Linked DNA regions of Homo sapiens: region 2 is linked to region 1. The links come from fine-mapping of genetic effects on gene expression. A gene starts in region 1. The other region holds a variant in brackets. All regions are shown on one strand. Distances are between the middles of the regions.

Region 1 (2,903 bases):
GTCTGGCTGTGCTAAGCACTTAACAATCGTTATCTCATTTAATCTTGACAACAACTTGGCAGGTAGGTGCAATTATTATACCCGTTCTACAGATGAGAAACTAAATAAAGCTCAGAAGTTTAGGCAATATTCAAGGTTGCTTTGCCCCACAGTGAGGTCTCAGGTCTCTTGGACAATAAAGCTGGCTTCTTAACCAGAAGGTTCTGTTCCTCCTGGCTGTATCTATCTGCTCCTACTTCTCTCTCAGCAAGGAATGTGTGTTGGGGGGAGGGGGGATGGTGTGGACATGAATCCTCAAGAGGAAGCTGAGAGCTGGTGCCCATCCCTGATGGCAGCAGGGACTTCTAGGAGAGCATTCCAAATGGATGACCAGCCAGCCAGCAGGTGTTTCCAGGGGCCTGGGCAATGCAGAGGCTACTCCAGGGCTGACCCGGGTAGCAGCTGAGGATGAAATTCCCTCTACTCAGACTTCTCAGGGAGGGGGCCCCTCACAGCCTAGAAGCGGGAGACTGACTGTCTCAGAGGGGAGGCCATGGACCCATTCCTAGAATAAGTGACCCCATCATAGTGCTGTCTGGGATGCCACCGGGTCTTGTCCCTCTAACCACAGGCTCCAGCACTGCCAGATGAGAGATGCCCTCAGGCGGGTCCTGCCTGCCTTCTGACCCCTTGGTCTGGGCAGGTATTCCTGACACTCCTCCATCCTCTTTAGCCTCCCTCAGAACAGATGTCTCCTCTTCCCAGGCGCAGGGGCTCCTCACCCTATCTGTGTCCTCCCCCAGGTGTCCCACCTTGCGGCTTACCTTCCCAACTCTGCCCTGGAAACTCGATCCCTGTGGCCCCTCCGTACGTCCTCTCTTCCCCCCCTCGCCCCCCGCCGGCTCCACCTTGGGTCACCACAGAACCAAGGGCGCCTCAGTGACTCCGGTCTCCACCCTGACCCCCTTTTCCGTAGCAGAAGCTTTACTTCCCCTCCCCCTGGGGGTGTGGGGATGTTATTCCAGCGGCTACGATTCTTGCTACCCCAGCTCGGGGTACCCAGGCCTACACCAGCTCCCCTCACCCCCGGTTTCTCGGTTTGATGGGACGGAAGGCTTCCCGGCAAGAGGCGGGAGACCCCACCCCTGGTCCGGACGGCAGGCAGCAGGGACACCCTCACCTGCCAAAACCTATGCTCACCCCGAGATTTATCCCGGACTCCGGCCTCCGGCGCCACCGCCTCCAGCCGGAGGGGCTGGCAATTCCTCCCCAGCTGGGGACGGGGGCGGCGGGGAAAGGGGCCGCGGGCGGGGAGGGAGGGGCGCCCCGGGCCACCGCCCCTTACCGATGGTGGAGATGTGCGAGGAGTGGAACTCGTTGTCGGTGAAGCGGCACAGCAGGCAGGTCTTGCCCACCCCGGAGTCCCCGATCAGCAGCAGCCGGAACAGCACATCGTACTGCTTCGCCATGACTGGGGCCAGCGGGGCCGGGAACTGCGGGCGGGCAGCGGGCTCAGCCCTGCTCCGCCGCTGCCATCGCGGCCCGCGCCCGCCCGGGGACGCTGCGGGCGGCGAGGAGGACGCCGGGCCCGGCCCCCGCGGCTGCCTCGCCCGCCCGCCTGCCCACTCGCTCGCTGGGTGCCGGGAAGCGCGGCTGCGGCGGGAGCCCGGCGCGGCGCCCGCTCGGCTCGGCTCGGCTCGGCTGGGCTGGCGCGAGGCGGTGGGAGGAGAAACCGGCGGCGGCCCCTGCCCGCCCCTTCCCCTGCGCCGCCGCCGCCGCCCCGGAGAGAGGGGGCGGGGAGCGCGCGCAGGAGAGCGGGACCCCATCGAGCAGGCGACGCTGGGGCGGGGCGCCAGCCCCCCCTCCCAACCCCTTCCTGCCCGGGGCGGGGGAACGTTTTCGTTTTTCCGCGGACGCTCCGAATGGGGGAGTTGAGGTGAGCCCCCACCCAGCCCACTTCTACCGTGCTCCGCTTTCCGGGCTCACCACTTCTCCCCATATCCCACCCCAAGTCTGGCGCCGGTAATTCCGCCCGCCGTGGCACCCTGCATCTGCAGGATCTGGCCGGGCTCCCCAGTGGCTGGTACCTCAGCTGGGCTCACCCGAGGTAGGAAGGCCTTGAGCAGGATCTGGATTCGAACACCCGTCTCCATGAGTCCCCGAGAGTGTGGGTGGAATTCCCCCTCCCTGCCATCTGGCTGCCCCTTACCTGTGTGACTGTGTCACGGCCCTCCCCCGTCCCCATTTTTTCTTTAAATGGGGAAAATGCCTATTCACGGCCTCCACCAGGGTGAAAAGATAGATGGCCATAAGAACATCTCCAAGTGCAAAATCCTTTAGAGGTGTGCGGGCAAGTCTCCGTTTTCCCTCTAAGGTGCTTAGGATAGGTGCCCAGGTGACCAATGTATTGTTTCAGACCCCTAAATTTCTCTGTGGTATAGCCAGTGGCACCAAAGAATGAATGGCCCTTGTTCAAGATCCAGTTTCCTACCACTGAATGTGTTAGCACCGGAGAGAGGCAAATGAATGCTCTCCGGAGTTGAGAAAATTGCCTATCCCTACCAACGAGTATTGAGGGAGAGCAAAGTCTAGCCTATTAGGTCTTTAAAAAGCAATGAAAGGCTAGGCGCGTTGGCTCATGCCTGTAATCCCAGTACTTTGGGAGGCTGAGGCGGGCAGATCACTTTGAGGTCAGGAGCTGGAGACCAGCCTGGCCAATGTAGTGAAACCCAGTCTCTACTAAAAATAAAAAAAAATTAGCTGGGCACGGTGGCTCGCCTGTAATCCCAGGCTTGAGAGGCTGAGGTGGGAGGATTGCTTGAACCCATTAGGGGAAGGCTGCAGTGAGCCGAGATCATGACACTGCACTCCAGCCTGCGCAACAGAGGGAGACCTTGTCTCAAAAAAAAAAAAAAAAAAGCAAT
Region 2 (2,903 bases), 35 kb before region 1:
CCTGTGGGGATAATTGGAAACATGGGGATAATTGGAAACGTGGGCTTATCTTGGCACCTCCTTTTTCTCTAATCATTCTGTGATGTACAGGTCTGGCTAGTTAGGCTCCTGAAGTTAAAAGCTCAGCCACTATTTGTTGTTTTGTTTGATCTAGCTCTTTCTCACATGGTTTTAGGTTCTCCCAGTACTAATTTAATTGACATCAGATAGCTTGGGCACAACCAGATATGGCTTGTTATTTGTAAGTTACCATGAAGAGGTTTATGTTCACTGTCCTTTATTTCAGTGTATCAAAAGTCCTTTCGGTTTCATTCTTTCATGTTGTGAGCAGGGCTAGTTATTTGAGGCGCTCAATTTAAAAATGTATGTTTTTTTTTTACTGTAGTACAAGACTGTTGTAAGATACAGTATAGTTGGATAGAAAAGGAATTAAAAGATCTGGGTCTAGAATTAGCTTTGTCACCTGCTAATGATGGGACACTGAGCAAGTCACTTATCCTGTCTGTACCTCAGTGTCTTCAGTGGAAAACTAGAAACCATCATGCCTCCACAGAATTTTTAAATCTAATGATTTTTAAATCTAATGCTGTGTGCAGGCAGCTGTCAGTGGTCTTTATGAAGAAAAATCTGAGCTAGAAGAAAGCACTGTTGTGTTATGGTTAAGAGTAGAGGCTTTGGAGTCAGACTGACCTGGCTTTAACTTTCAGCTTTGCTGCTTCCTAAGCTGTGTGTCCTTGGCAAGTGTCTTGCCCAATTACCTTTTCTTTTAATAGAAATAACAATTTTTCATGGGATCTCTATGAGGGTTAAATAACCTAGTGTATATAAAGTACCTAGCCCAGTCTGTGCCCATAGTAAATATTAAATGAATGGTAGTTTGGATGATGGTTGTGATGGTGATTATAATAAAGTTCTAGAGTTTGACTCAGTGTTTTTGAGACAAGGTCTCATCCAGGCTGGAGTGCAGTGGTGCAATCATAGCTCACTGCAGCCTCGAACTCCCAGGCGCAAGCAATTCTCCCACCCTAGCTGCCTGAGTAGCTGAAACCATTACAGGTGTACATCACCATGCTCAGCCGATTTTTTTTTTTTTTTTTTAATTTTTTGTAGAGACGAGGTCTCACTGTGTAGCCCAGGCTACATAGTGAGCTCCTGGGCTCAGGCCATCTTCCCGCCTCAACTTCCCAAAGTGTTGGGATTATAGGCTTGAGCCACCATACTGGGCCTCAGTGTCTCATAAACTAAGGAGAGATAGCTATGGGAACATAGTCATGAAGATAATTATCGATTTCAGTGTCTTTACCCTGGCCTCCTAAAATCACTTGTTCCAAGCTCTGGTTTTTTTGTTTTGTTTTTTGTTTTTGTAAGAGCCCTCAGGTTAGTGATTCTCTCTGTCCCTCCTCTGAGTTGAATAGCATTATCTCAGCACTTCTGGGAGAGTTGTTAAGGAGACTTCCCCCTCCTTCTGGGTGCCCCTAGGGAAATCTGATTAAAAGATTTTTGTTTATCTAGAAAAGTGGGTGATATTTTAAAGCTTTGCCTTGTCTGTTTATGATCACAAGCTAATACTTCTGAGGATGATAAGGGGGACAAACAAGATGAAGAATAAAGGAAAGGAAACACTTTCTAATTTCTCTTCATTTTAACAACAGCACAACTAAATATTTGGTAAACCTAAACATCCTTTTAAAATAGAATCTTCCAGTCTTGCCTTCCCTGTTTCCTCCTGAGCTGAATAGATCAGGTTCTGTCTGAAGCAAATAG[T/C]GTTTCCCCTCCCAAGTGAAGAGCCTTCATTCTAGCTTTATGGCCTTCTCTTGACTTTCTGCAGAATAACTTATACTGTAATTCCCATTCCTTTGGGAATCCCTAAATAATTCTTTGAACTTGGGCCTCAAGGGAAAGACTGAACACATTGTACTGGTGTCTCAGGCTCTAAGTTGCCTGTGGCATGTTTCCAACACCCGAGATAGCTGGCTCTGTTACTGGATGTAACAACAGGCTATGGTACTGTCAAGGTGATGACTAGCATCCAAGAAGAATTCTCTATTTTGTCAGGAAAGCAATTTGTCTGCAGTTACTGCTCTAAAATCAGTACATGGTCCTGCCCCATAATAATTCATACCCCAGCTGTTGACTTTAAGAGCAGGAATCTGAAAGGCTTGAGGTTTCAAGAGTGAAGGTAAGGGTAGCCTTAAGTTAGCAGAAGGCCCTGCAGAAAGGTGTCAGGGGATTCCCACTGTAATACTCAGGTTACCCTTTTGAAATAAAGCACTGTTGTTGACAGGTTTAGTTGAAGGTCAGAAAGTGGGGATCCTAAACATCTATTCCACATTCACTCTCATATGATGCAAGTGCTTAGAAAATGGTTAGGGTAAGCAGAACAATTAAAGGAAAAACATTTTCCCTTCAGCATTGGGCTTCTCAAGCAGTGTGTCCAGTTTGGAAAACTGTCCCTTCAGGGTTTCAGTGAATAGAAGTGAAAATATTCCATCTAGTGGTCAAAGAAGGGAAGATGAAATGAGAAGTTTCCAGGATGAGGTCTGTGGGGCAAGGTGACAGGCAGTGGCCTCTCAGCAGGTATCTTTTCCAGAACATGATAGAACCTGACCTTGGCGGTGGTGATATGTTTTGATTATGTCTGCACTGGATGAGGAATTGGGGACACCATCCTTGCAAGGCCTCTGAGCAAAACTGTCCTCACAGTGAGGAATAATGATGTTGCAAATGGCAGATTATAAACAGCCTGACTCTGAAGGGAGGCTCTCTCCCATCCCCAACCCCTTCCTTCTTACAGAGGAAGAAATGAGTCCAGTCATTCCTGCCTCTATTTGTCTGGAGCCTGAATTTGTGAATATGTGATTTTGAGAAGAATGAGGGTGTAATGTGAACTTTATTTATTTATT

What was found. PIP is the estimated chance that this variant, and not a neighbour inherited with it, causes the effect.
Region 2: its variant is the best candidate, but not a certain one, in a credible set for the expression of RAB15 in whole blood (TOPMed, PIP 0.61).

Annotation. Positions count from the first base shown.
Region 1 is chr14:64,970,629-64,973,531 of GRCh38, forward strand. It overlaps RAB15 (RAB15, member RAS oncogene family), which reads right to left and starts at 1,708. Exons shown (of 7, transcript NM_001308154.2): 1 at 1,325-1,708. The coding sequence starts at 1,448. The region is part of intron 3 of CHURC1-FNTB (CHURC1-FNTB readthrough); the gene reads left to right. RefSeq lists a silencer at 1,501-1,870.
Region 2 is chr14:64,935,422-64,938,324 of GRCh38, forward strand. All of the region lies in intron 3 of CHURC1-FNTB (CHURC1-FNTB readthrough), which reads left to right. Among named protein-coding and RNA genes, the nearest start is that of GPX2, 5.9 kb to the right of the region's middle. The variant T/C (reference allele first, on the strand shown) is at 1,765.